2 separate regions of the Homo sapiens genome follow, and region 2 is linked to region 1. The links come from fine-mapping of genetic effects on gene expression. A gene starts in region 1. The other region holds a variant in brackets. All regions are shown on one strand. Distances are between the middles of the regions. Region 1 holds the start of TGFBI (transforming growth factor beta induced). Region 2 has its middle 31 kb from the start of TGFBI.

Evidence for each region. PIP is the estimated chance that this variant, and not a neighbour inherited with it, causes the effect.
Region 2: its variant is fine-mapped to the expression of TGFBI in whole blood (TOPMed, PIP above 0.99).

What each region holds. Positions count from the first base shown.
Region 1 is chr5:136,017,239-136,032,491 of GRCh38, forward strand. It overlaps TGFBI (transforming growth factor beta induced), which reads left to right and starts at 11,750. Exons shown (of 17, transcript NM_000358.3): 1 at 11,750-11,951. The coding sequence starts at 11,818. LOC105379189 (a long non-coding RNA gene) reads right to left here and starts at 8,655. Exons shown (of 4, transcript XR_948809.3): 1 at 8,580-8,655; 2 at 7,625-7,704; 3 at 7,421-7,541; 4 at 4,320-4,623. RefSeq lists an enhancer at 13,967-14,036.
Region 2 is chr5:135,990,625-136,005,877 of GRCh38, forward strand. No RefSeq gene overlaps it. Among named protein-coding and RNA genes, the nearest start is that of TGFBI, 31 kb to the right of the region's middle. RefSeq lists an enhancer at 10,742-11,243. The variant C/T (reference allele first, on the strand shown) is at 8,849.

The DNA.
Region 1 (15,253 bases):
TCCCAGATTTGATTCCCATGGAAGCCTAGACATCTTGTGGAGAGGGAGGGGGTAGCATGAGGCCCCCAAGTTTCATGCCTCCCATTGTTTTCCCTTTTCAACTTCCTCAAAGAACATCTCAAAATGCACCTCCCCCAAGTTGCCTTCCCTGACTAATACAGCTTCACAGTGACCTTTCTCTTTCATCATTTGACTGGCTCATGCCAGGCACTCCATAGTTAATTAACCAATGAATGAATGAATACCGGGAATGGGGTAGTGAAGAAGGCAGGCATTATCCCTGCCCTCATCAAACTTGCCGTCTGGTAGAGAAAACAGACATGTCACTGATAGATGCTATGGTGGGAGAAGAAAAGGAGCCAGTAAAAGCCCACAGAAAGGGCACCTACCCAGGCTGAAGGCATCAAGGAAGGCCTCCCAGAGAAAGTGTGGTCTAAATTAAAATCTCATGGACACATGGAAGCCAGACAGCAAGAATAAAGGTCTGTGTTCACAGGTTTGGAGGTGGAAAAAAAGCATGCTAGGTTCAGAGAACTGAAAATATTTTAGTAAATTGGCTATAAAAATGTATGTTTTCCAGTCTTGAACTTGATTTCTTGCCTTTCCTTGGCCTTCACAGACAATGGTGTGCTTCTGGAAGACATGAAGGACCTTCTACATCTTTTGTGTTTACCCTGTATTTGCTTGACTATGCAATATCCACAGCTGACACTTTAATAAATGCTTAGTGGGTGTGGAACTTACTAGAAAAGGAGACCTCTCCGAAGCTTCCTTGGAGCTCATTTCATACATTCCCTGGGCCTGGGCAGCACTGTATAGAATCCCTTCTGGCCAGAAAGGGGCTAACAGAATCCACCTACTGGCCCTTAAGACATGTATCTACAGGAAGCCATGCTCTGAAATATCTTTTCATGCATTATCCCAAACTCAGGGTTATGTATTAATAGGAGCATTTCACCTGCAAGGGATATTCATAACCAGTGGCCTTGGGGCTGGGGCTCTGATCCTGTGGGATGGATGAATGGCAATGGATGGCTTGTCTCATTCTGCATTTCCTGTCCAAGACCAAGGAAAGGCACAGGGTTGGCAGGAGGGATGAGAGAGCAGGATTGTCCATTCAGACTCTGGCTCTATCATGGACAGGTCAGATCCAGTCACCAGTAGATGGACTCGGCCTTTCTTGCTGTCCCAAAGTGGCCCTTGCTAGCCATCTGTTCTCCTCTTCTCACACCCTTCAAGGCTTTCTGATCAAGTCCACAAAATTGACTCGTGCAAATGACACTGGGAAATAAGCTGTGGTCACCAACAAGTCAAAACCAGCTGAGATCGGATATTTCTTTTGAGGCATGAAAACAAAGATTTTTGGTAATCTTTTAGAGCATTCCTAGCTGGAAACTTTTCCCGGAAATCCATAAGTTAAGTGCTCCTTGTGTCCTAGAGAGCAATGAAATTTATTCTTACACCATCCACACCAACTGAACGCTAGTTATGATAGGCTCTAAGGTGGTCCATGATACCATCGCATACATAGGTAAGCTTACTTCCTGTGTGTCTGCTGGAGAAAGCTGTGTTTATGCCAAATGAATTTATGTTTCCAGTTTTCAAAATTCAGAGCTGATTTTCCCTGGTTTGTGGCAAGCGGGTTGGCCAGCAAATGAAAATCAGCAGGAGGAGACTTTCCCAAAAGTCAAAGGAGGATGGAAGCAGAATGTGAGAAGTCTGAGCTCAGCTAGCCTGGTCTCCAAGCCTTGGGCAACATGCAGCCTGCCTGGTACGTGACCAAGGTCTGAGGTCAAAGGTGAGATTCCACACACATGGAGACAGGCCAGTTGAACCATGCCAGAAACTACCACTTCCTAAGTGCACATCTTTTCTCTACTGAAAGCAGACCCAACTGTCCTTAGTGAGTCCTTTAATATGTCTGTTTTGTGTCATGCGTATGTGACTCCTCTTAGGCACCCTGAAGTCAGGAACAATCTTCTCTCACCTCTCCCCTCCAGAACACTAGCGGAAGCAACCATTTCATCTATGATAAGAATAGGACCCTGAGCTGACGACTTCCTGCATATCATTTCCTTGGTGATGAGATGTTTTTACCCCAAATCCAGCCGTGTCTTTCCCTGTTGTTTAGGATTATTAGATGTATGCACTTTTCTACCACCTTCTTCTTCAAGAGACATCTTGCACTGAGGTTCTTGTGTCATTTGCTGTTCCTAGCGTATGCCAGGTAAACATTCAGCAAGAGGCAAATGCTTTCAGCCACGTGAGACCTCTGAAAGGAAAACACAAGCAGGCCTTCTGCCGGAACCAGTAGCCGCCTGCTGTTAGCTGGGGAGAAAGGACTTTCATTCGTTTTTGTCATCAAGCTGATACTGTGCCAACACCCACATCTGGAAACAGTTATCAAGAAAGAAGAGGCATGCAAGCCTGGGTCTCATGACCCTGCAGCCTTCCTTTCTGCTGCTCTATTTATTAACATACTGATTTAGAGTGATCAACCTATGTCCCCAGAGTAAGTTACAGAAACTAAATTTTTAAAAGGCCACTGCCGTCACACCACTTCACGAAAACAGGCCAAGGTCTAACTTATGGGGTCTTGGATGGAGTTTGTATCTAAATAAACACATTTTAAAGTTGCTTATTGTGTTGTACTTTAATCACTGAGCCAAGCCTTTTTAAGCTTTGTCTTGAGCTCTGTGCCCCTCCTCAGCTTGGCAGAACTCTGTCCTGTCAGTCTCAAGGGCTTGATAGAATTTGTACTTATTGGATCTGGACACACAGATAGAGGAGTCTGTTATTTGCACATCACACAGACCCACACACACAGATACACACTTGTTGCCCTTCCTTGCCTCCTTCACTGTAAGTAACTAGAAATTTAAGAAGGAACCTGAATTATGTTTGTGTAGCACCAGTGCTATGTGATGTTAGTTGCTGATCGTGCCCCAAAGGTATAAATAGACTCCACAAGGGCTAGGGGCCTACCTTGAGGCTTATTGGTTTTGGAGTTTGAAAAGTGCCCACAGAGAAGACTTGAACCTATCTTTGAGAAGGACCAAATCAAGTCATAAGATATTTAGTAGATCTCTCTACAATAGAGGGAGGAATAAACGTGGCCATTAAGAGTGAATACAGAGGAAAGCATTTCTTTCAGGCTTATATATGTCTCAGGAATTGTAAAGCGCTAACAAGAACCAGAAATTCAGACCAGCAATCCTGTCTCTAGTACTAACCCCGTCTCCGGTTTCTGTTTTGATGAGTTGCAGTCTACCTTGATGACTTGGCTTCACTGTCCACCAGATGATGAATCATCCCTTCTGGGAAGAATCTGGTTTCCCTCCGGCTACCCCAAACTCCCCCCGCCAATCCTTGCTACCCTCCCACCCCCGTTGTGTGGTGTGTGGTTGGGTACTTCCCTTTGGAGTCCTTTTGGGTATAGCCATGCATTTGGCACTTATTTCATTGTATATGTGCCTGGCTCCCCACCAAAGAATGACTCACTTGTGTCTAGAACCGTAATAAGCAGCCGACTGCTGGGCTCCTAACATGAACTCAGTAAATATTGGTAGAATCGATCAAGAACCACTTTCTGGAGCAAGCTGGTTGTTCATATGTTGTCAGTAGTAGTTTTTAAAAATAATGTAGAATAACAGGACTAACTGAACTTCTGGTTAGACTGTTACTTCAGGAATGTGCTAACTAACGTGGGAAAATCTTTTCTAGGCACCCTGGAGGTCATTTTAATTTTTTTGTTGTCCTGGGATTTTGGTGTATCAAATGTTCATTGAAATGACCGTGCCACGAGTTTGAAGATTTCTCAGGCACATTTAATTGCTATTTCATCAGTAATTAAATGAGGAATTAAAGGTTGTTGAGGATTACTAAGCAATTCTAGTTGATCCACTGAAAGGAATGCTGATTCATGGTCATCTAGAGAGTGATCCAGCAGCTCAGGTCCCCTGTCTGTCTGGAGAAGGGGATGAGTGGCTGCGTGCTGGCTGCTTTCTTCCCCAAGCCTGCCTCACTTACCACAGCAGCTGCTAGAGTCTTGCTCAGTGAAAATGTGTTCAAGGGAGAAGGTTTGAAGGTTGTATTAGTTCGTTTTCATGCTGCTGTTAAAGACATACCTGAGACTGGGTAATTTATACAGAAAAAGAGGTTTAATGGACTCACAGTTCCACGTGGCTGGGGAGGCCTCACAATCATGGTGGAAGGTGAAATGCATGTCTTACACGGTGGCAGACAAGAGAGAATGTGAGCCAAGCAAAAGAGATTTCCCCTTATAAAATCATCAGATCTCATGAGAGTTATTCATTACCACGAGAACAGTATGGGGGAAGGTACCACCATGATTCGATTATCTCCCACCCGGTCCCTCCCACAACACGTGGGAATTATGGGAGCTACAGTTCAAGATGGGATTTGGGTGGGGACGCAGCCAAACCATATCAAGGATTTTCCAAAAATATGCAACTACCCTAGCTGGGGAGGGGGTGCATAGTGGTTTAGGTAGGACAAGTACTTAGGGCTGGGCTGCCTGTGTTCAAGTGCTGGCTCTCCTACCCACTAGCTTTGTCACCACTCCAACAAACTTCTTCACCTCTCCAGCCTTGCCTTCTTCATCTGGAAAACAGAAAAGAGAACAGTACTCAACCCATAAGAGTATTTTAAGGATGGAATGACTTAACACATAAAGGTATTGAGAATAGTACCTGACATTGGTAAACTCTTATTTTTCTTTAATAAGCCAGTATTCTACGTGGGCACATGCATGCACTGTTTTTTTTTTCCTACTGTTTTTTTTTTTCCTTCTGCTTTCTTCCCTGCATCATTCTCAAACGTATAGCCTTTCCTAAACATAGCCTCATCTGGAGGAAGCTTGGAGGCTAATTCTTGCTTTTGTTGTCTTTAGAAGCAGAAATCATTCTAAACATTTGTATCTTAACTACAGAGCACTATGTGGTTTATGTAGAGCACAGCATTCACCCCATTCCTGTCCCAGTGAAATATGAGGAGTCCCATGGATGGAAGACTGAGGAAGAAAATGCTGGGAAAGACTGGGGAAGGGTGTGTTATGGCTGGCCTGCCACTGGGCCCAGTGCCCAATCGTTAGATGAGGGGCAGTGGAGGGTCCAGAGAAGTCTGGGGTGGGTATCATGGGGCACTCTACATGGGGTTTAATTTTTGTCCTTTCATGCCAGGGCAAAGGTGCTGATCTGGACAATGAGCAAGTTCTAAAATGTTAAAACCAGCAGGCAAAATATGGTGGCTCTCATCTCACCAGCTCTTTAGCCTGCACAAATTAATTTCTATACCATGGATTTGAATGTCCAGGGTGTTTTGGAGTAGGGTGGATCGGGTCAGGATAGCAGCAAATTCTTAGGAATTTTGAAAATGGCTCTCAGGATGGCTGCTGTGGAGCCATCAGTCATGGCTGCATCAACCCTGCTTCCCCTTTCTACCTTCTAATGCTGGCACAACATTGCAGCTGGGGAAGCAGAGACTTTCTTTCACCTAGCATGAGGGAGCTTCCAAAGGATCAGGATGTGATGTTGGGAGCACCGGCCCCAGAGAAGCTCGATCCTTCTCCTTCGTGCTGGGACTTAAGGCCTGTGCTAGGGAAGCTGGAGAGGGAGCCAGGTCCGATGTTCTTTAAAGCCCTTCAGAATCCCTGCCTGACCCAGAGGGCCACGCAAATGAGTCTAGTCCACAGCATATGGTGGAGCAGTCACCTACAGCAGAGCCAACAAATGTCTTTGTCTATTCTGACCACTCTATTAGAATAAGTGTGAATTATGCTAGAAAGAATTTAGGAAGCCAGTCAACTGATGGATCCGCAAATGCTAACTGGGCTCCGTGCTGACTTATTAGGAGGCTGTTAGAGAATCAGAGGAACAAACACATGGGCTCACTGTGATGACGGATGTTAGACTTCAAAAAGGAGAGGCTCCATCCAGTGGGAGAGCCACGGAAGGGAGACCAGCTGAAAAAACAGCAGCCCAGAGAGGTGAAGGAATTTGCCTGAGCAAAGCTTCTTAGCAAAGCTGGTTTTGGAGGGAGAGTATCGCATACGTGTGTAGAGGCAAAGAAGGAGCACAGTGCTCACTACACGGGGAGCAGAGCAAGGCTGGGGGTGGGGGGCTGAGTGGGTGGAAGAGGCACAGGCTGGCCCTGCAAGAGCCCAGGCTGAGACTGGGACACAGGGAAAGCAGGTTACATGAAGCAAAGGGGGAATTTTGCAGAGGACTTTAGAAGCCAGGTACAGTAGAAAGAGGGCAATACATGGGAAGTTCTTTCAGTATAGGGATTATGGATGTGTGTGTTCCTCTTATCTAGCCTTTTCAGTATTTTTTAAGGTTTTTCTTTTTTTGGTAATGTGCCTGTATTCCTTTTTAACATGGTGGGGTGCTGGGGAGGATAAAATGTTCATCAAAAAAATAAATAAACAATCAGAGAAGTCTGGATTTTCTTTTACAAACAATAGAAGCCATCGGGAGTGTCCTAGGAGTGCAGTGTTTTGGTAGAAGTGTTTTAGGAAGATAAGACCAGCCACGTTGGGAGATGGTTGGCTGGGGTGGCAGCTGATGTCAGACTGGCTGGAGGCTGTGGGTGGTGAGAGGTAAGGCAGTGGGGAGCTGGAGTATTTGAGTAGCAAAAGAGGGAACAGAAGCATCTAGGAGAGATTTGGAAAGAACACCTGCAGGATCTTGGTGACTGATTGCACGTGGGGGACCAGAGAGCAGGGACAGGCAAAACTGAATGCAAGGTTTCCAACCTTGAGCGGCACCACAGGCAAGAATGAAGAAATGAAGAAGGGGAGCTGGACGAAAGAGCCAAGGGATTTCTGCATTTTGGAATGAATTGCTGCTGGGTGGTGTCCATTTCCCTGAAGGCCTTTATCCTACGTGCAAGAAAACTCGTGGGAAGCAGAGGAAAGGCATGTGTAAGCCAACAATCATCTGTGGGCATCCTTCCACTAAAGTATTTGAGGTCAGGCAACTAAAGCAACCTCAAAAGTGCCTCTGGATTCTTCTTAGATATTTTAGCTGAGCCAAATCAATGAAACTCTCATGAAAAATCGGTTTCCCTGGAAAATGAAATTGGGTTCTAACCAACAAGTAGCATTTGGCAGGCCCTGATTAAGAAAGCCAGTGTTTGGAGAAGTTGTGAAAACAGCCAAGTCATTTAAGAAACTAAACACTGGGGCCTAATGCCATTCTAGGGCTGCGACGGCTGTTCTGTTCCCATCAATTGCAGAGCCCGAAGCCTCAAGTTTGTTTTAAGTTCCTGCCATTACAAACCTGTCGATTATCCCAGCCTCCCTTGCGGGCTTTGAAAAGAGAGAAGAATGGAAGGTGACTGTGGCCAATTTCCCCTCCCTGTCCAGTGTGTGGAAGACACTGAATATGCAACTACTGACCTTGTGCCTGGGCATCTTGAAGGTCTTCCACAAAGTGAGCTGGGCCTCAGCGGAAGATGAGAGTTCCTCTGTGGTCACTTCACTGGTACACATTTTCAGGTGTATTTCGTTTCTTCCATGCCTACATAAATTGAATCCTCTGTTAACCACCTCTGAGCTCATAGCTATTTAACATGACCCTGTAGTCCTGTGCATACAAATCACCTTGGGATCTGGTGAAAATGCAGATTCAGTGGGTCTTGGGAGGTTGGGAGGTTATAAGATTCCACGTTTCTTCATGAGAGCTAGAAAAAATAAATAAATAAATAAAAAATTTTTAAATTTTCCACATTTCTAATGAACTCTGGGGTTGTGCTGATGATGCTGTTTTGCAGATCACATTTTGAGTGGCAAGACTGTGGAAAATCCTTGAGAAATCAATCCAAAATCCCCTAAATGGTACTACAATCACACCTTAATGTTAGTAAACTGAGATGTTTCTTACCTTTATTTGTAACATGGAAAAAACAATTACTGTATATGAAGTACCATTCTAAGTTCTGTGTGTTACACAAGGGATGGCAATTTTCCCCAAAATTTGATTCACATCTTTTCATTTGGATATCTCTTGCCAAAACTCACCTTTTTTTCTCCCTAGCAAGTCTTGGGGAGCTGAATTTTAAGAGCTCTTTATTTAGCTATATGGTGGCCTCTGAAAATGATTTTGACTGTATCTTCTGTCTCCATGTATGCCCAAGCATCACCAGGAACTTTAGGGAGTAAGGAAAAGGCAGGCCTGGTGTCAGCTGGGCTGCAGATGCCAGCTCTCCCACCAACAGGCCCAGAACCAGTTTCTTTCCTAGGTTCCTTTGTGAAGAACTTGTTGGAACTACTAATTTATCATGATGCATAAAGCTTGTTGTCATACCCTACAGTATTATTTTCAAAACCTGAATGTTTTTGGTGACCTTTCATGTGCCACAAAATGTAAAAGCAGTCATTTTTTAAAAAGTGCTTGAAAAAGTCTAGTAAAGATTCTTCCAAGCAAGCCTCACTTTCTCCTGTTTAGATTGTTTAATCTGGAAGGAAAAAATTCTTTCTCAAATGACAGGGTTTCTGGTGCTCTGTGTTTGCCTGGTTGGCTCTGGGTCATCTGGGGATGGAGGGTCCCTGCTCTTACCTCCAGCAGCATCACTCTTGTCTCCAAAGAAGCAGCAACCTCAGGTGGGAGAATGGTTATACTCACAGCATTCTGCTTTTCATGTTTGAAAGAGGGGATGGGTGGTGGGGCATGGATGTGGGATTTTAAAAAAATATCTAAACCATAAATAAAGTATTACTGCAATCTCTTTACTGAGCTCATGGAAAAACTCAAGTCATCGAATGTTAGTTTTGCAGACTGGAGAAGTGAGGTCCAGTGAACTTGCTTGACTTGCCCTAAATCTTGCTAGAGAGAGAGCTGGAACCAGATGGCAGGGCTCCTGGCCTCTTACATACAAGGAGCATTTTTCCTAGAAACTGCAATGCAGCCAAATTCTACTGGTCTCAGGGGAAACTTGTTCTGGGAGTCAGCCTGAGCTTGAATCCCTTTGGGTTCTTCCCATTATCCTATGCCAAGCAGTCATGCTGAAACCGAGAAATGTTTTGCTTTCAATAAATGAAATGAGCATTTTCAGATAATTATTTCTGTAGTTGCTCAAAACTATCATATTGTTTCATTGAACCCTACTATATAGAACAATGACTGGGGAGAGGTAATAATAATAATAGCAATGCATATTTATTGGCCATTTTACTTGAATTGTATCATGTAATCTAGTTTAGAGTCCTGTGAGGTAGGTTTTATTATCCTCTCTATGAGGTTGAATAACTTGCCCAAGACCACACAGCTAGGAAGTAGAAAGACTGGTATTTGAACCCATCTTCTCCTTTTCTTCTCCTTCCTCCTCCTCCTCTCTTCCAACACCTGCTCCCAAGGAAGCTCATCCAGTGCATGACTTTAGCTACCACCTGCTCGTAGTGGTGACTCAAATCTGCATCTCCAATCCTCATACCTATCCTGAGCTCAAGACCTTTGAATATAGCTCCCTCCTGTCCATCCCTCCTGGAAATGCAGGTGGCTTGTTCACACATAATGTGAACACAAATGGAGCACTCTCCTCACACACCCAAATGTGCACCTTCACCAGCGTGCCCAGCACAGGCATCCCTTCCTGCCAGCTATGAGCCTCGAGGTTAGCTCTACTCCCCCTCCCTAACCCTGCATGCCCAAGGGGTTTCCAAGTCTAATCAATGCTACCACTAAAATCTCCCATACACCTGTTCCCTCCTCTCCACTAGCTTGATCACTCCCCATGCAGGCCCTCAGTTGCTTTATGCTCTCAGTAGGCCCTCCTCCAGTGCCCACACTCTCTCCCTTCTCCTTCCCACCTTCTTTCTACCAGAGTTCTAACCTCTCCAAGCCCCGCTTGTCTTTTTCTTTCCCTGGCTGCCATCCTAACTCGCCCCTTCCCTTCTCAGACAAGCTTCTACATGCTACTCATCTCTCCATCAAACCACCATATTCGGGCTTTGGCCATCTGCTCTCCACAGCCAAGTCCCCAGTGGCCTCTCTGCTTCTGACACAGTGAAAGCCATTCAGATCTGTCTTGTTGGCAGCATTCCTCACTTTGAGCAGCGCCCTCCTACTAGGATACCCCTCCTTGACTACAACCCCACATTCTCTACTTCCTGGGCTCTTCTGTCACTGGAGGATGACTCCCAGGTGTGAATCTTCATCCCGCGTCCCTCACTCAAGCCCCCGATCCTCATATCCAGCTTTATCCTCATGGGATGCTTCACCAGGATGAGTCATAAGCACCTCAGACTCAGGGTGTCCCAAACCACTCATCTACCTGGCAAGCCTGCACTCTGCATGTGCCTCATTCTGAACATGGCACCATCACCTGCTGCAATGTCCAGACCACAAACACCCTACAATATCCTTGACTCTCCTTTCTCCCCTTCTCCCTGTATACAGACTCCAAATTCTATTGAGACTATTACCTCCTACACCCCTCACATTTGCCCAGCCTTCCCCATCTCTGCCTCTACCACCATAGTTCAAGCTCTCCCATGGTCCCTTCCTGGTTACCTGTTCTTCTTGCCTCCTTAAGCCTCTCATGACACTGGCCATGTCACTTGCCTCCACCCATCACCCGCTAGGCTCTTAGCTGGAGTCTGGGCCCTGCTACCTTCCTCCCCTTCTTCCCTACCCTTGACTCCACCTCCCTGTGCTTCAGCCAACCAGATAACTTGAGTTTCGTGAATGCATGCCTCAGTTTACCTGATTAACTCATTTTCATCTTTCAGGCCTCAGAGCAGGTATCACCCTGTCAGGGCCAGGTGCCTCTTCTTAGCTCCCAAAGCCCCAGCTACTCTTCATGGAACATCATTGGCTTGGGCTACGGATCTTCCCAAATTGGAGCTTTTTCACAAAGGGCTTAGGTCTCACTCATTCTATTAATCCATCTGTGTCTCCCCAGGGCTAGCAGTGCCAAGTAACTGACAGGTGATTAATAGATGCTTGGGTAAGTATCACCTCTTTACCATGTGACAATTTGTTTACCTGCCTTGAGCTCCTCCAGGGCAGGACTCTTGCCTTTGCAGAATCTATCTGGCAGGTACTGTTGCAGAGATGTTTACTGAAGAAGGGAATGAATTAGTACCAAGGTGAGGACCCCACCCTTCCCCACGGGCTCCAAAAGCAGCTTAGAGCCCAACAAAACCTGCCCCACATTTTTGGCGTTTCTGTGGATCACACGATTTACTCATCTGTCTTTCAATGAGCATGACAGGTGGGGTGGGGGTGGAGGGATTAGAGATTGAGGAGCTGGGGAGGGTGGTCAGCTCCTGGGGTGCAGAAACAAGTCTGATGGGCCATGGTGTTCTGGGAATCAGCACTGCCTCCCCTCACCCCTCCCTGCAGTGTTTTGTAGCCTCAAGATCAGTGAGGGAATCTTCGGGCCCCCAGCATGCAGGACCGAAGCCCCCGAGACAGCTGTCCCTCAGTCCCAAGGTCCCCATTTGGAAGCAGCCACAGGAGGCCTAAGGGACCTATACCCTTGGTTTGAGGAAGACTGTGGCGAGGGAGAGAGGGAGGGAGGGCTGGCAGTGAGGGCAAGGGCTGGGAAAACTGAGCACGGGCACAGTGCGGGAGCGGGTGGGTGCCCAGGGCAGCCAGGGGCGCACGGGTTGGGAGGCGCCAGGCGGCCCGCCCTCCTTGCACGGGCCGGCCCAGCTTCCCCGCCCCTGGCGTCCGCTCCCTCCCGCTCGCAGCTTACTTAACCTGGCCCGGGCGGCGGAGGCGCTCTCACTTCCCTGGAGCCGCCCGCTTGCCCGTCGGTCGCTAGCTCGCTCGGTGCGCGTCGTCCCGCTCCATGGCGCTCTTCGTGCGGCTGCTGGCTCTCGCCCTGGCTCTGGCCCTGGGCCCCGCCGCGACCCTGGCGGGTCCCGCCAAGTCGCCCTACCAGCTGGTGCTGCAGCACAGCAGGCTCCGGGGCCGCCAGCACGGGTAAGCCGAGCCGCCTGGCCAGGGGCTGCGGAAGGTCAGGTAGTCGGGGCTCGGAGCGCAAGCCGCTGGGGGCATTGAACTGGGCTGGGGGCGCAGGGGACAAAGCCCGAACTAAAAACCTTGCAGCATGGAGCGCTCGGACACCAGCCCTGCACGCGGTGGAAGGAGAGAGGGAGGGAGGTGGAGGACCATGGAGGGAAAGCGGGAGGCCGCCGCTTTGTAGAAGGGAGTGGGGAAGTGGACCAGAGACTTTCGACGCAGGCCAAGAGCCTGAGACGGACAGCGCTTTCAGCTTCTCCTCCCAGCCACTGCAGAAAGGGGGAAATGGCAACTCTTTGGCCATAATCACCGTGGGAGGGTGCCAAGGGCAAAGCCCACCCAGCAGTACACCTATTCCAACCCAGCCAGGCCCCCGGCCAGCGACTCCAGACAAGAACCTGGGCCACACACGGTGGCAGCATCTAAGGTGCCCCAGGCTCCTGTGCTCCTGGCCAGGCCCTGCACTCAGACACTGCTGGCACCCGACACTGCTCTCTGGGTACAGCAAGGGCAATGTGGCACTTCTTGTCCTGCCCGATGAAGAGCAGGAGAATGCACTGGGCCCTCACACACACTGTTCAAATGGGGAAACTGAGTCCTGAGTGGTTCCACTTTCCCACAGTCCTGAAGTGTGCACTGGAGCCAGGATTGGAGTCTGTCTTAAAGTAATAGCTGGGTTTGTAAATGTAGGACACTATCATTGCAGGAATTCCTTTGAGACCCTGAAGATGTGTTGGCTTTAGGAGACAAACTCAAGCAGAAGGTCTGGTCTGATAGTGGCCCTAATACTGACCCAGGCAGAGGCAGGCAACATTTCTACCTCAAAAACCAGGCCATACCTGCGTCACAAATACCCAGGCTTTGCTGCAGCTTCCAGCCTACCTGGTTGCACCAACTTCTTTTTCATAACTAGGTAAAACTATATATGAGTAGAATCTTGTAGTGACTCCTCAGAGGAAGCCTAAATACCATCGGGGTCTGGCGTTCACACCCACAAGCAATGCCCAAACCTCCAAGAGACTGGGCAGATCTGTGCTCAAATCAAAACTCATTGTTGGGGGTGATAGAGTTGACTTCACAGGCCCTGAAAGTCTTGGCTCCTTGCACTAGGAGTGCTCTGGGTACGGGTACAGGCTGCCCCTTGTAGGGCATAGTTGCTCTTGTTTCCTCTACTTGTGGCTTTATGGTCTAGGCCTTTCAGGAGTTTGGGGCTCTGGCGGAGAGGGCCTGCTGGGAGCACATCTGGCCACCCTGCAGAGTGAAATCAAACCAGGCCTGGCTGCAACCTCAACACCCTCCTGGAAAGAGGAGAATACTGGGGATATCCTGGGGTCTTTCTGGAAGTGGGAGAATCAGCTTTGACTTGGGCAGTGTGCAGAATAGAGTGAGGGGGGATGTCAGAAAGATGAGAGGGATATGAGGCCTCAACATCAAAATGCAAGCACCTGGCATTTTTATTATCTCTGCCCACCTCTCCGTTGGTCTCTCTGCCTTTCCTGCCAATGAATTGTGTTATGTTTGGGTGCCTCAATTTGCCTAGGAGGGTTCTATTTCTTCTGTATCTTCGCCACTAAGTCAGGAGAAGATCCTTATAGCATGCCCTGCAACAGTGTCACCTGTAAGGGCATCTCTCTGCACAGCCACAGTGAAGGATCCTCAAAGGTATTGAGGGCTTTCCATCAAGAGCCATCTTTACAGCAAACCTCTTTCCCTTCAGAGCCCAGAAGAGTGCTGACCAGCTGGAAAACAGGGTTTTTTTCTTAAATGCAGATGCTCTTGATTATGAGTTCCAGATATTAGATCAACTTCCCCACCATACCCCTGCAGGCAAAGCCTCTTAATTAGCTTCCTGCAGCACAGCTGGAAAGGCCTATTGTAATCTGTGATGGGCAGAGTAATCTAAGAAGTCACAGGAGCACCCCTGTCCCAGTAGAATCTGGATGCGCAGGCACATGAACCATGGCAAAATGGTTGCAGGCACAGTTGTATTTACTCTGATCTAACTGTCCCTGTTAATGCCACAGGGCTGCCTGGCCTGGCACACAGGGCTGTGGCGCCTTGTGCAAATGGATAACGTTGTTCTAGCTCCAGCCTTTCATTCAAAGTGAAAACTGTTAGAAAGGGAAGGAAAACTTTGCTATTTTAAGGAATTGTAGCGTGCTGCCTGATATGAAGGAAGAAATAACAGCTGTGCCTTGCTTGTGCGCAGCACTCGATTGCCGCTTTTGCTTTCGACCTCACCACAACACAGTGAGATCTACTGTTCATGTTCCCATTTTACAGGAGGTGAAACTGCAGCTTAGTGAGGTAGAGAGTGACTTAGTTCAGACACAGAATGCTGTTGGGAGAGTAATAACTATGATATGGTCTCTTGACTCCCAGCTATATCTGTGTTGCTATAGGGAAGGGGAAAAATAATACTGAAAGAGAAGTAAAAATACAATCACACTTCCAAACATCAACCACCAAAAACTGAACTGAATTTCCTGAAGCACTTGGTTTTCAAATCTAAGCTGAACATCAATGCTGTTATTCTTGAGGCCCAGAAGCAACTTGCTCATTTCAATTAAGCTTCAGCATGAACTTCCTATGTACACAGCCCACCCACACTCCCCGATGTGAGAAGGAGAGGGTCACAGCCGCCCCCAGCCTCTGCTGCTGCCACAAGGACAGCAGCAGTGGAAACATTCAGCAAAGGAATGTTGGAGCCACATCCACAAGAGACTCACTGAAGATTCGCCAAACGCCTACGGAAAGTGGCAGGGAATTCATTGACAGTAATTGTTTCCTGCTTGATCAGATTGAAGAGCTTCTGGGATTCTGTAACAATAAATAGGACCGGGGGCTGGAGTATGGCCAGCAAGGACTCTTCAGGGGTTATTCAGGGACTGTCTAACCTGTGAATCCTAGGCAGCAAACAGAAACCAGGTATTCAGAAATCTGGAGGATTTGGTCAGGCCCAGCTAGGACTAGGGAGGCATGGGCCTCTGCTGGCTGTGGTCCCTTCTCCAGCCTTCACTTCTCTTGTCCCTAGATCCTTACATGGATTCATTAATGCTCATTGTCCCTCCTGGGCCCACTCACTTTCACCTGTTGAACAAAAAACTGGCCAAGAGGTGACAGTCATATCACCGCAGAAGAGACAGGGCAGAGAAATGAAGGGGCAGAATGGACTCCCACCCAAAAGCCTGACTCTGAATATTTGAGAATTGTTCAAGTTCCTGCAGAGGAATCATGATGGGGACAGTAGGTGTAGTTTTTAC
Region 2 (15,253 bases), 27 kb before region 1:
GCACAGGGCGCAGCAGGCACCACGGCCCTGCAAGAAGACAGCCAGTGTGCCCCGAGGGACTGAGACAGAGCAGAAAATGTGGCGTCAGAGGAGCCGGAGGTGGGGCCAGGGGTGGGGAAGAGCAGAGAAGCCCACCCCGTAGGACTGCACACAGCGTAGGAAAAATGCTGAATTCTGTCTTAGAATAAAAGGGGAACCCACTGAAGGCGTATGGGCGGAGTGAAGCCACTGCAGCCGCAGTGAGGAGAAGAGAAGGGAGACTGGTGAATCAGGGCCAAGGAAGGGCCATGAGGGGCGTTTGGGAATCCGCGGCTGGGCTCAGCCTGGCAGCGGAAGTGGAGAGCAGTGGGCAGATGGCAGGGGCTTTAGGGAGGCCATGCAGGCAGCAAATCCCCAGGAGCACTTGTCGCCCCTGTGCTGCACTCCCTTGTAGTCTCTCCGTCACAGTCGGGCAGGGAGCATCAGACAGATATCTGGAGTCCTGACAGCCTCTCTCAGCAGCCAAACGCACAATTCAGAATTGTCAGTTCCCAAAGAGGCCTCCAAAGTGAGCGCAGAGAAGATATTGTCATTCAGCACAACACCGGTGTGTGAAGACACCAAAGGCTGCTCAGCAGCCCCCTGAAAGTGGCGCCTTGGGGTGACGAGGCTGCTGGCTCTTAGTGCCAGTCCAGGTGCAAGGAGAGCTGCCCCCACCTTCTGTGTGTGCCACAGTCTCCTCCCTCTCTGCCCTCTGCCCCACGTTGTATCACCTCACCTTTTCTAGCCTGAATATGGAGGCTCCCGGAGCTAGGAAAGAGTTCAGTACCCCCCAGCTGTTTTCTAAGGCCGATTGTGTCTCCACCCCTCCCAGGCTTCTCCACTTTATGTTTCCTCTCTCTGCATTATGTTTTTAGGCAGCCTTTTCTCCGGATTTCCCATCCGCGCTGAGAACAAATGACATGCTGATGTGTTCAATCAGTGTCATACGTGGTAGCTTTGAGAGTAAGTGCCAGAATGTGTCAGGGAAGCTATGGGATGGTGGAAGGTATCCATGGCAATATTGCCCTGTTTAGCAAACATGTGAAGAAAATTTATGCTGAGATAATCAAAAAGTAACTTAGAGGTACACTTTGGTAGCTCCAAGTTCAAAACCAGTATTTTCCGCTGGTTGACTGCAAGGCAAAAATAATACTCATGCACTTTGTGCCTTGAACTTTATGGCAATAGTGAAGCAGGCTTTCTCAGACCGGGATAATTATCACACTCTCACATGATTTTGAGGTGTATCCATAACTCATGACAACGTCAAATTTCATTTAGAACAAGTCTACACACCGTTTCCCTGCAGTAAGGTGCCCCTTGGTAATATCTAGTTCATCAAATATTTCATTTTTATTGTTGTTTTTCTTGCAAGTTCTGCAAGTATTTTAAGCTATAAACATGTGAAATCCAAAAATGCTTACTTAATGCAATTAGTATTTATAAAGAGTTGAGTCCTTGGCCCTCCTGCTCTTCAGTGAAGTTCCCAGTGTTTCCAGCAGCAGGTGTCTCTGTATGTCTTGCTGCATTCAGAATTACCTAGAGTTGATGCCTCTTGTCTAAACTTGGCCCAAGAAAAAAGATTAAAAGCAATAGTGTGGTGCAATTTTCTGGCAGAAAACAGAAGGACTGGTATCTTAGTCTGTTTGTGCTGCTATAACAAAATGCCATAAGCCATAAACTGGTGACTTTCAAATAACAGAAATTTTATTTCTCACAGTTCTGGAGGCTAGGGAGTTCAAGATCCAGGTGCTGGCAGATTCACTGTCTGGTGAGGGCTCACCTCCTTGTTCATAGAATGGAGCCTTCTTGCTGTGTCCTCATGTGGTGGAAGGGGCAAGCAAGTTTCCTTGGGCCTCTTTTCTCATTCACAAGGGCTCCACCTTCATGACCTAATCACCTCCCAAAGGCCCCATCTACTAGTACTATCACATTGGGGAAACAAATTCAGATCACAGCCACTGGTTTTCCCTCTGGTTTTGACATGTATTGTAAATTCCATTTTGATGTACATAAAATATATCTAAACAAATTCAGCTTTGACATAGGGGTTATCGGTTGCTCCAAACTTGTCTATCTAGGAATCATGTACTGCAAAGCTATGAAGATACCTCAGAGGATCTAAGTGTGGGAGCTTCCTAGGATGCAGAAGCATGTAGGCCAACCAGCTTCCAATGGTAAATGCAGTAAGCGATCCATCTAAATGACAAAGGCAACATGGTCTAGCTTTGGCACTGACTCTTTTGAATCATGCACAAGTCTCTCTGTATAAAACTAGTTGATAATATCTAACCTGCTTTTCATGATTCTTGTAATTACCTCAACGAGAAAAGTGATTGTCCGATTCAAGGCATGCTTGTCATTCTTCTTCATCTTATCATTCACTCCGCCACACTGAACCCCTGCTACTCTGAGGCAGTGTAAGCCAGGAGTTGGGGCTGCCGCTGCCTTTCTCCTGATGAACACCAATGGCGGGGCCTTCTGCACCCTTGGGCTCAGAGCAGGAAGAGAAGCGTGTCTTCTGTGTCTCCCCCTTCCTCAAGCCCCACACACACTCAGGGGGCACTTGGTACAGTCCCTGTTCTTCGGAGCACCCACCCCAAACCTCCCCTGAAATCAAAGATGGCTGCCCGACTAAGGAGGTGTTTTCAGTTATTCAGAACACCTAACCTCACTGAGACCAGCAGGGTTAAACAACCTGATTCTATGTCAGAACACCCTTCTCAGTTATTCAGAACACCTAACCTCATTGGATCAGCAGGGTTAAACAAACTGATACTATGTCAGAAAATCTAATTGAGTCATTGTTTGGCTTAAGTCATTTCTCATCCATTTATCCACTAGACCTCCCACAATGAACACTCTAGTTCTACGTCTTCATTTTCCAAGTTACAAAAGAAGAAGCAGAAGAAAATCTGGACTACGGCTCTTGAAGCTCTACTTGGTAACATGAAAGGGAGGATAAAAGCCAGGGAGCCAGAGGCCATCTGAAGCAGAACATCACCTACTTTATCTCAGAAGCACAGGCCTTTGTCTTCTGAATGACATTCTTCCTCCCTAGAAAATCATGTCTGGAAAATTCTTCCAAACAAGGCTCAAAACAATGACTTCAGATGAAACAGGCTCAAATGCATAAACACCAGCGAAACAGAGGATTTCGAAAATCTTTGCGTGTGTGCTGCCAACAAGTTCTTTTCTGTAATTCGTGGGATTTCAGGTTTAGCTCACATTTACCCCTTTCCTCGCAAATAAAAGTTTCTGAGGCTGCAAGCCCATGGGAGGCCACTGTCAAAGGCCCCAGGGAAGATCTCTACTACCAGCAAGAGGAGAAAGAGCTCAAGGCCACACTGACAGACAGACAGACATACAAGGTACTGTAAAGCTTTCTCCCTTGTGGCCCATTCCCCTCCTGTCCGGAAATGCCTGTGCACTCTGCTGAATGACTCATCCGAGACCAGACAATAATAAAGCAATCACGTTTGTTGATTAAAAATCAGCCTATCTAGAATATAAATGTTCCTTTCAAGTAGCTCTATTACTCTATCTGTGAAGCATGTGGGAAGTCTGCTCTGTGTCATTTTTCCATTAAAACGCAGTCCTAACAGGAGAATTCCAGCTACCCTGCAACATCTGCTCCAAATTTTCCTATGATTTATGTGACCATGAGGCCAGCTCCAAGTATACATATAAATAGGTTCTGCGAGGGATCTTGTCCTATATACAAGTAAAAGTAGAAAGATTGGTATTTAATTACATCATCAAATTTGTTTTAGATCTTGGAATGTCACATTGTCAACCAGATGTCCATATATCCAAATTTATTATTTCATGTCAGTGAGACATAAGAGTGCTTTAGTTGTATATGTTCATTGTAATTAATTCTGAACATTTTACATAAGTTATTTCCATAACAACTGTGGGCAAGAGAGAAGAAGCAGATTCTAGTAACTAACTCTGCTCTATAGCTGGGGAAACTCAGTGGCCCCACAGCAACTCAAACAACCAGCCCTCAATTCTTTTGACCCTTAGCTTACTTTTTAGTGCATAGTTTCATCTCAAAGTTATAACATTTTTTAATAAAATAATAAGTAAGAGGAAATACTGTCGTATTTGATGGGGGAGGTTGCTAAATGATAATGACACTTGGATGTCAGGACATTCCATGTCAGAGTGGCCCTCTCCTTTTGCTGGGAATTTTCTGTCAGCACAGTCTGAGTACTGTGTTGGGGGTGGACTGCCAGGGCTCTGTGGTGCAAGTAAGGAGGCTGTGCCCCTATTCTAGGTAAGAGGCTGTAAGAGCTTGGATTTGGATGCTTGGGTGATGAAAGTGCAAATGAAGGACAAAGTCTTCTTCAAGGGAGATGTAGAAGGCAAAATTGAATGTACTTAAGGAGGATGAGGGTGAAGATGGTGAGAGAGGTGGCTCACAGGCTCTGGAATGGATGGTCCAACCATTCTTTAAGATAGAAAACTCTGGGAGATACTGGGAGTTAGATCAAGAGTTCAACCTTAAACAAACTGACATGGTGCTGAAACTTCAAGTGGACATGTCAACTATGAAAGTAGAGACAGGATGCTGTGCCTTACCCCCACTCACACTGGGTCAGCTCTGCTGTTTTCTGTGTGATAGGGTAGCATTTCATGTAAAGATTTGCTGTGGTTTGAATGTTTTTGTTCCTTCCAAAATCTATGTTGAAACATAATCCCCAATGCAACAGTATTGGGAGGTATGCCTTTGGGAGGTGATTAAGTCACGAGGGCTCTGCCTTCATGAATAAGATTAGATACCCTTATAAAAGGGCTTGGCAGAAGGAGTTTGCCCCTTTTGCCCTTCCGCCTTCTGCCATGCAAAGATAGCATACCTCGCCTCTGGAAGATGCAGTGCTCAAGGCACCATCTTGGGAGTGGGGAACAGCCCTCACCAGATACCAAACCTACCAGCACCTTGATCTTGGACTTCCCAGCCTCCAGAGCTGTGAGAAATACATTTCTATTGTTTATAAATTACCTAGCTTGTGGTGTTTTGTTATATTAGCACAAATAAAGTAAAACAAGTGTTTTTTTTTTAGAAAGTAGTTCTATAAGGACAAAAAATATTGAAAGAAACATGTCTGTAAGCGGTGGGAAGACACTGAAGGATTTTAACCAGGGAAATGAATTGAATGGATTTGTATTTAAGATCCACGTGGGAGCAGTGGATGAAAGAAAGTTGAGATCCTGGTTCGGCTGGCCCCTTCCTAGCTGTTTGAATTTGGGGAAATCACTAAACCCTTGTGAGCCTCGGGTTCTTCATAAGATGGAGATAGTGCTGCCTTCTTCATCTGGCTGTTATGAGAATTATAATTAAAATGCCTAGGATAATAAATGCTTAACATGCACTGGTTTCCTTCTCCATGATGGAGTACCTGCTGATAAGGTTTAACAAGTGGGGAGGGAGAGAAGCTAATTAAGAGGTTCTAGTCATCTCCCCAGAGAGGAGTGGACAACCCCTGACTTAGGGCCAGAAGACTGCAGAGTCTAGACGGCTGGGTTATGGAGTGCTGGAGTCAGGGCAGTGCGCACAAGTGTTGGGCTGGGTGACTCCAGTGGAAAGTAGTGCTGATAATCATGCTTGGAATTCAGGGGGACGGAGGGCACTTGGGGTTTGGTCAAGAGGAGGGTCCACCCTGCAGCCATTGTACACACAACCCCCATGCCCCCATTAAGACTGCAGAGCTCTCCTCCCCTTGCCTTTCCTTGTGAGCACCCTCTCTGCCCCTTTCAGCCTCTGCTGCTGCTCATGCCTCGCCACTGAGCCCCACAGCAGCCAGCTGAGCTTTCCTGTTCTCTTCCCTCCTTTCCTGTTTCATTTCCGAGGCTCTTCCAAGCCCCCGGGCTTTTCACACAAACACTTTCTTTTCCTACCTCAGAACTTGGTTTTTGCCTCTGCACAGTCAGGGTTGCTAGCTGCTCGGGTATCATTTCTTTTCTACCAAAGAAGGGAATGTTTTCTTTTTATGGGGCTCTCTCCAGGTCTGGAGCCCTGCTGGCTTCTCCACAGCTTTAGGTAACCCACAAAATCCTCAGCATTCTGGCTGCTGCCCTGGCTGTGCCTGTCTCTCCGGGCAGTGTCTTGAGTGACAGTGGGAGGAATGGGTCATGCCTGACTAATCAAAAGCCACAGCAGGCAGCATTGCCTGGACTATGGTCCTCTGACACTTCATCCAGATGATGATGCCTTCATATTTGTTAGAAACTTCATGCCTTCTTCCCAGGACCCGGCTTCCCTAGAAGTTAATCAGGCTGGTGGCCAGTGGAGTGGCTGTGGATTCAGAGCAAAGCAGTGTGGCTGGTCCCAAAAGCTCTTTCTCTGGGCCATGGTGAGACCGCTGAAAGAGCTCCACCCCACCACACAGCATGGGGAGAGCTCACAGCCAGACTATCCTTGAACCCCCCAATCTAGGCCTTTCCGCCTGAATACATGGGTCCTTTTTGCCATCCTCTCTGTTCTTTTTCTGGGTTTTTCTGGCCAAGCAATCTCTCTTTAAGTCGGTTAACTTACCTTTTGAGGCATATCTTTGCTCTCAGCCTGGGAGCTCATCTGTCTCTGGGAGATGGCTCTACCTAAACAGAAGTCTGTAGATGTTTTCTTGGGCTCACCCTTCTCAAATCATGTTGAGAAATCATGAGACATGAGAAATCATGTCTCAAAGCATTTCCAACAAAGCTTTAGCTGACTCAGAATATACAAAGATTTTTTTCCAAGTCAACTTTATTGAGGCATAATTTATGTGTAATAAAATGTATATATTTTAAGTATACAATCTGATGAGTTGTGACAAACGTGTACATCCACATAGCCGCCACGACAATCAAGACACAGAACATCTCCATCACCCCAGAATGCAACGTTTGCCATTATCCCCCCAACCCCAGCCATGAGCAAACACCCACCTGCTTCCTGTCAATATAGATGAGTTTTGCTTTGTCTAGATTTTTATGTAAATTATCATACAGTAGATATCATTTATATCTTACACTCAGCCTACGATTTTGAGATTCACCCATGTTATAGCATGTTATGGATAATTTGTTCTTTTTTTTAGCTGAGCAGTATCTCATTGTATGGAAATAAGATAATTTGTTTCTCTCTTCACTCAGTGATAGACATTTGGGCTGTTTCCAGTTTGGTGTATTACAAGTACAAATGCCTTTTCTGATTCCTGATGTAGCACCTGGAGTAAACACGTCTGTTGCCCTTAGAGAGCTTAAAGTCTTGGCAAAAAGAGACAATTTAAATGATTTAATCCTCGTGGAATTTTATTATTGGATATGATTGGGATATAATCAACTGCAGGGAGGCTTGTAGTTGTGCTGGATGCTATGGAACCGGCAGAGAATGGAAGAGTACAGGGGGCCGGGGTCACTTCAGGGCATTTTATTTTATTGGGGAATGGCATGTGAAAGCTCCATCAAATGACGCTGGATGGAGCCCTGCCCTGGGAAGCAGGCAGAGGAAGACCACAGGGGGAGCAATCCTGGCAGGTGAGAGGCTGCAAAGATGCCGCCAGACCTGGAATAGAGAGTTTGTGTTCAGCAAGTGGGACAGAAATCACGAAAAGGCCTTGAATACTGCTCAAATTGCAGGACCTGCCACTGCCATGATGAGTGCCACTCTGAAGCCCTAAAAGATGACAAGGGAGAGTAGGAGAAGCAAGCCCAGAGGAGAAAGAAAGTGGAGAATGGTCCCCAGAGGAAGGGAGGCAAACAGGGAGCAACAGCTACGCAGGTGACTGCAATGTAAGAAGCCATCCAAGAATAGACAGTGTTTCAAAATGCTCAGGAAAAAGCAAGGTGCGGTCTTCTGGATGTGGCGGCAGAAAAACCCCAAGAGAAAGACATCATCAACATAAAAGCCTGGAAAAAATAGGGATCATAAAGATGCCAGTGTGACTGACAAACAAATTAGAGGTGTTTGTCTCTCGTACTCTCCCTTATCATCTTTTAGGGCTTCAGAGTGGCACTTCTCACTGGGGCCATCTGCAAGCTGTTCTTCGGCTCAGGAGACCATGGCCCTGCTACACAGTCTCCCATTTTCACATACTTGTTTTTATTGCTGGGTAACAAATTACCTTCAACTTAGTGGCTTAAAACAATACAGTGGCTTTTTTTGTTTAATCTCACAGTTTCCATGGGTCAGGAGTCTGGACATAGAGGAGATGGGTTCTCAGCTCACAATCTCATCAGGCTGAAATCAAAGTGTTAACCAGGGCTATGTTTTCATTTGGAGCTCAGGGTTCCCGGTAATCAGAATTCAGTTCCTGCAGTTGTAGGGCTGAGGTCCCATTTTCTAGCCAATCTAGGGGCTGCGCTCAGGTCCTAGAGGGCCGTGCAGGTCCCCTCCACGGGAAGTTCACAGCATGGCTGTTTACTTTCCTTCAGGCCAGCAGGAGAGTGCCTGAATTACATCTGCAAAGTCCCTTTTGCCATACAAAGTAACATGTCACTGGAGTGACAGCCAGTCTTATTTACGGGTCCCACTTACACTCAAAGGGAGGAGATGATGCCTGCACAGCAGGGACCAGGAATCTTAGGACCCATCTTAGAATTCTGCGCATTGCACATGGTTTTTCCTTTGACTTCCTATTTCTCCATCTAGAAAGGCAGGGGCTGTGGGCTAGGTCCTCTCAGAGATTCTGCTCTGCACCAATACTCTGAGTCTGTGTTCTCCTTCATTTTATGATTAGAGTCCATTTGGAAGCACTATGCCCAATCATCTCATCCAAAATGTGCCTTGAAGATAGTGATGGGGACAGGGGCAGAGATGACTGAGAACCACTGAAGGGGT[C/T]GCAGGCCAAGGGAGGGGCAGCTGAGTAACGGGCAGGGAGGCCTGCTCCTGGAATGGATGTTTGGTGAGTCATTAGGGCTGTTCACATACATTCTGTTTCTTCTTCTGAGCAGCGGAAGTGGGATTTTACTTCCCCATCCCCTTTGCAATTCAGTATAGGCATGTGCCTGACTGTGGCTGGTGAAATCTGAGCAGGGATGATGTCTATCATTCTGAGCTGAAGTTTTAAGAGCCCGTGTGTGTGTGTGTGTGTGTGTGTGTGTGTGAGTGTGTGTGTTGTCTCAACTCCCTTGTCCTCTGCTATAGTGACTAGCAGTTTGAGACGGTGGCTGCTTCATTATCCTGGGTCCCTGAAGGGATGCAGAACAGAACTCCAGCCAACCCGAAATGGACTTGTGGCACAGATGACAGAAATAAATCTTTGTTGTTTAAAGCCCCTAAGATTTAGGATTGTTTGTTACTGCAGCATCACCTAGCCTATCCTGGCTGGTACAAAAAGGACAGTATCACAGTTATTCTGGCTGCCACCTTCTCTTTTTCTCCGGAAACTCTTATCTGAGCCAGGTCTTTGATGCAGTGGCTTCTCAAAGATATAGCCATAGGGTTCAATCTTGATGAAAAGTGACTGTGTTGCTCTATAGTCATGTATCTTCCGTCATTCAAACTGAGCTACTCACCTGCTTGCTGAGAGAAGATGCTCTCCCACACCCTGGGCCCTCAGCCCTCATGATAAATAAATAATTTTTGTTTGAGAACAAATAAGAGTAATTAGCACATTCAGGGAAAACTGCCAGTCAAACCTGACTTGGACATGCTTTGATGTAGTTTACTTGTCATCTTGTTCTGAAAAATCTCAATTACCTGCAACCTGCCATTCCCGCTCTTTTCTTTTCCTACACCTCTAATTTGTTTGTCAGTCACACAGGCATCTTTATGATCCCTATTTTTTCCAGGCTTTTATGTTGATGATGTCTTTCTCTTGGGGTCTTTTCTGCCACCACATCCAGAAGACTGCACCTTGCTTTTTCCTGAGCATTTTGAAACTCTGTCCGTTCTTGGATGCTTCTCACATTGCAGTCACCTGTGTAACTGTTGCTCCCTGTTTGCCTCCCTTCCTCTGGGGACCATTCTCCACTTTCTTTCTTCTCTGGGCTTGCTTCTCCTACTCTCCCTTATCATCTTTTAGGGCTTCAGAGTGGCACTTCTCACTGGGGCCATCTGCAAGCTGTTCTTTGGCTCAGGAGACCATTGCCCCTGCTCCACAGTCTCCCGATGAGGGAGGATGCTGGCAGAGGTTGGCTGCCACTCAATTACCCAGACTCATTCCAAAGACCACGCAAATTTTTGTCCAGAGGGATGGTGACTGCCAGGGGGACCGATAGAGGGTACACAGGCATAGATCACCCTCAAGCAGAGACTACAACTGGTTAGGACTATGAGAAGAAATTATGCACAAGAGCGTGTCATAGTGTAAATTATGCCATGGTTTAAAGAGGAAATAAGACACAGAGAGAATCTGGCAATTATAATAATAATAATAACTAACAGTTAATGAGCACTTTCCATGACCCAAGCACAGCGTAGACACTTCCTATGGATTATCTCCTGCAGTCTTCATATTTCCTGTTGGGTAACACTAGTCTCATGCCCACAATTCGGATGAGGAAGCAGGGGCTCAGAAAGTTAAAGCAGTTCACCTAAGGTACACAGCAAGTAAGCAGAGAACTGGGATAGGGTCCCAGACAGCTGGCTTCAAAGTCCATGCTTCTACCCAGGCAAAGGGAAGAAAGAACTACACTGGCCAGAGGAGCTACCCCCTAGTTGCCAGTGTCCATGATGATTCCCTTGTGAGGAGGCCCCCCAGTCCAGATCCTTCCCATCCCACCTACCTGGAACTCGCTTCCAGCTGATTGGCTACAGGGCTCTGCCACATGATGCAAACTGGAAAAGGCCCTGTTTGAACTCTTCCCCTGCAAGAGTTCAGGCCCACAGGTTCTGGTGTGGGCTTGCTCAGCTGGAGGTAGCCTGAGGTGAGCTGGAGTTTACAGCCCTGGCTGCAGGCATCCTGCCGGGTTGGACTGCCTTGCTTTTCAGAGTAGGGGGAATTGAATTATTATTGCATCAACTCCTCCGACACTCTGAGAACTATGGCCTCCCTCATTCCTTCCTCTGTGGCTTTTCTCTGCCCATAAATGAAAAGCAGATTGCCTCACTGGTGCTGGATGCTCAGAGCAGAACCGCATCCTAGGTGTGGAAGAGCAGAAATGTTTCTCACCATCTGTTTCTCGTTGACTTCAGTGGGGCCATGCTTAGACAATGGGGCAGTATGCAGCCTGCATGGGGTGTGGCCCCACAGGGTGACCCCATGGCCTGCTGGCTGGCAGGCTGGGGAGTGGCCCTCCTCTGCCTTGAAGGCCAAGAGGCTGGGGAGCTTGTGTTTCCTAGAGTGTGGGGGTGGTTTCCCCCTCATTTGGCCGTTTCTTCTTCCTTTTCTTTCTAGAAAGATGGATTTCAGCTGTTTTCCCAAGACTCATAGTAACCTCCTAGTAAAGTCGATATTTACTGTGTGTGTGTCTGTGTGTGTCTGCCTGTGTGTGTGTTATGAACAGTGTAAATGTATTCTACGTTTAATGCAGAAAACCTAGAAGAATGAAAAGAAGCAAAAAGTAACAGCCCCATTATCAAGATTTTTTTTTGATGTGTTCTGTCAGTGGTCTATTTTTCTTGATTATTTTTTAGCATCATTAAAAAAAAATATCGGGACCTAATGCACGCTGCTGAGTTAGGCAGTATTCTAAGTACTTCGCAGGGGATAATTTCAGGTTGCATATAGTACAACCCTATGAGTAAATAATTTCATTAACAGCATTTTTACAAATGAAGACACTGCAGTTAAGAGGGGCAGGAGCTCCGCTCAAGATCACCCAGGAAGGTGTGGTGGGACCAGGACTCAGGACTCAGTTGCAGGTTGGGTAACTCCAAATTTCACAGCTCATAACTACCTCCACCGTACACACTATACATGAAATGCAAGGCAGTTTGTGTCCTGTTTTTCACTAAGCAGTAGATGGGGACTATTCAACCAATAGTCCTGTATGCATGATTTTAACAGCTGCGTATATCTCATTACATAGATTTAGCTGAACCTGTTTAGCCAATCCCCTGACTTTGGGTTGTTCCAAATGTTGTCATTATAATGCTGAGATGATCATTCAATACAGATACCCTTAAGGCTATATCCATTGATTTGCCAGTAGTGGAATTTGAGCTAATAGACATGCATGATACTTTAAGAAGTTTTGAAAGATGAGGGAAATTGCCTTTAAGAAAAGTTTTACTCTTTGCAACACTAAGCATTATAATCTTTCATTTACGAAAATAGCAAAGAAGATTTTTTTAAATGCATGATTCCTTTTTATACCTTTCATTTTTTTTAGTGATCCAAATAGGAAACTTTTTCATTCATTGTCAATTTTAACTTAACCTTCTGTAAACTCAATGTTCATGCTCTTCACACAATGTAATTTATTAGGTAATTTATTTTTACGTTGATTTGCAAAAGCCTTTTACATTAAGGATGTTGATCCTTTGCCACCTGTGTTGCAAACATGTCTCTCGGTTTGTTATCTGCCTTCTTATCTTGCTTATGATGTTTTGTATTTTTGTGAAATAGAGGTTCAAAAATGCTATGCAGCTAATCTATCAATCTTTTTCTTGGTACTTTCTTCCTACAGTATTTTATTTTTTAAAGTTTTTTTTCTGTCTTACCTAAAATATTAAGTAAACCTTAGCATTAAATACAGATATTGTCCTATTGTTTAAAATTGAAGTTGCGGTTATTTTATTTTCTAGCACAACAATTACAGAAAGTATTTATATTCATTTTTGGTCATTTTTGTTTATTAATTTTTAAACCACAATCTTCTGAATATATACATCAAGAATAGCAGGTAAGAAATGAATGTACCACCCTGCTCCCTTTTTCCCCAGGTTGGGTGTCACTCACTGACCCCTGCATTCTCTCCCGCAGAGCTCAGAAGGGGCTCAGAATCTTGCTCAATACAGTAATCCTCAATGCCACAATCCTCAACACAGGTACTCCTACAAATTGAGACCCATAGGTCTCATCATCCTTTATGTTTAACAATCATTAAGAAAGACCTACACTGCGTAATAGCTTTGGTGGCCATCCGTCATTGCAGGTGATACTTCCTAAATTGTAGGGTGAAAGATATGGCATAAGAAATTAATTTCTTGGTCTTCTTATAAAATTTCAGAAGCCAAGGACAGCTTAGGGAAATAGCAAAGGGCTAAGCATAAAATCTCAGAATTCTCTGATAACACAGTCCAACTGGACTTTTGAATTTGGGATCTATGCTCCATAAAAGAAGAGCTGCATATCCAGAATTCCCTTTTTGTTGTTGTTGTTTTTTGTTTTCGTTTTTGTTTTTTTGAGACAGAGTCTCGCTCTGTTGCCCAGGCTGGAGCACAGTGGCGTGATCTCGGCTCACTGCAAGCTCTGCCTCCCGGGTTCACGCCATTCTCCTGCCTCAGCGTCCCAAGTAGCTGGGACTACAGGTGCCCGCCACCAGGCCAGGCTAATTTTTTTTTGTATTTTTAGTAGAGATGGGGTTTCACGGTGTTAGCCAGGATGGTCTCGATCTTGTGACCTGGTGATCCACCTGCCTCAGCCTCCCAAAGTGCTGGGATTACAGGCGTGAGCCACTGCGCCCGGCCTGTGTTCTTCAAGTTTATTACCTCAGTCACTAGTATAAGTCTATTTCAAGTCCTTGAATGTCTAAGAATGTCTGTCTGTTGCCTTCATAAGGCTGCAAAATTACTGGATCCTAACTTTCTTCCTTCAAAACTTTCTAAAGCCTGCTCTATACAGGGTGGCAAAGGACAAGTCTGAAGCCAACCAATTTTGTAAACTTTGAAAGAGGTATTTTTTTTCCCTCAATGCTCATGACATGAAAACAAATTAGTCTTATAATTCAAATATGTTGCTAGAATGTGTTTTAGCCCCTGTGACACAGTGAGGCCTCTCTGTCAGGGATCCCCTAGGCCACAGGTCCATCGCTGTTTGGAAACCCACTAAAATGACTCACAAAACTCAGCTTAAAGTGTACTCAGCTTAAAGTGTACTCATAGCCAAGATTTATTACAGCAGTGTTGTAAGGATATATGAGTGGCTCATGAAGGGAAAAGGCACAGGCAGTCTGGAGGAATTCATGTGCAGGTTTCCTCATGCTCTCTCTCACCCATTAGGAGTCACGCACAGCTTACTCTTCACCAGTGAGAAAAATGAAACAACGTATGCATGATGTATCTGTCTAGGGAAGCCCATCAGAGACCCATTACACAAGTTTTTTTTACTGGGGTCTGATCATGATCATGTAGGTCCTTCTGTCTAGCATGAACTAAAATTCCAAGAGAGCAGGTGTTTAGTAGCAGGCCTTTCTAAGTATTGCAGTCTTCAGGCCTGCTCGGTGAACTCTTTTCTAGACAGCCCCCTTTAAATTTATTTTTTTTAGAATGCTATGGGCCATTTCGATTTGCATACTAAGGGCTGTTTTCTCTAATGATATCTTTGATTATTGCTTTCTTCCCACTTGAGTGGGTTTCTTTCTTCAGAAGTTCTGTAATTCTTGGATATAGCAGGACAGAGAAGGAGGACCGAATCATCCTGTCCTTCCTCATCATTTTCATCATTTTGCTCTTCTCCTTTGATCTCATTCTTGCCCTCCACATTACTGATTCACTTTTCTATGGTGTCAGCTCTGCTCCTTGTTGACTTAATTTTTTTTTTCAGATATTGCATTAAAAACATTTTTAATTGCAAACCTGAGTACTTTTTCAGAAGTTTCATGATTTTCTCCCCCCAGTCCCCACCCCTCCACCCCTCCTCAAATAGTGAAAGGTCTATCTAGACCCACTGATTTATAAAAGAGAAGTTTTAGGGGTTTGTACTTGTCACTGCCCTTGACATCTTGGGTGTCTATCAAAAGCCTTGTTAAATAAACAGTTGAGCAGCCGATTGTGGTGTGCAGCTTCTAGTGCTGTTCTTAGTGACCACACGTTTTTGTTTACTGAACGTCTGTTAAACTGAAATCCATCTTCTTCTACCCCACCATGTAGCTCCTTGACATGATACAGAAATGGAATGTGTAGAAAGGGCAGTGCCCTGGCATGCCTCCCTCCAACGTTGCCATCGTGGGCTGTGGCTGCAGTGCCGTGCCCATGGGACTCTCCTCCTGGCTACTGTGGAACCCATAGTTCCTCCCTGTGCATCTCCAAGGCCATGAGGAGGGGGTCCCGTGCAGCCAGGGGGCCCCCCGGGAAAGCACCCGAGTTTTGCATGGCACAGCCCTGTGTTCCTGGTTATAGGGGCAGGTTCCCTGGCAC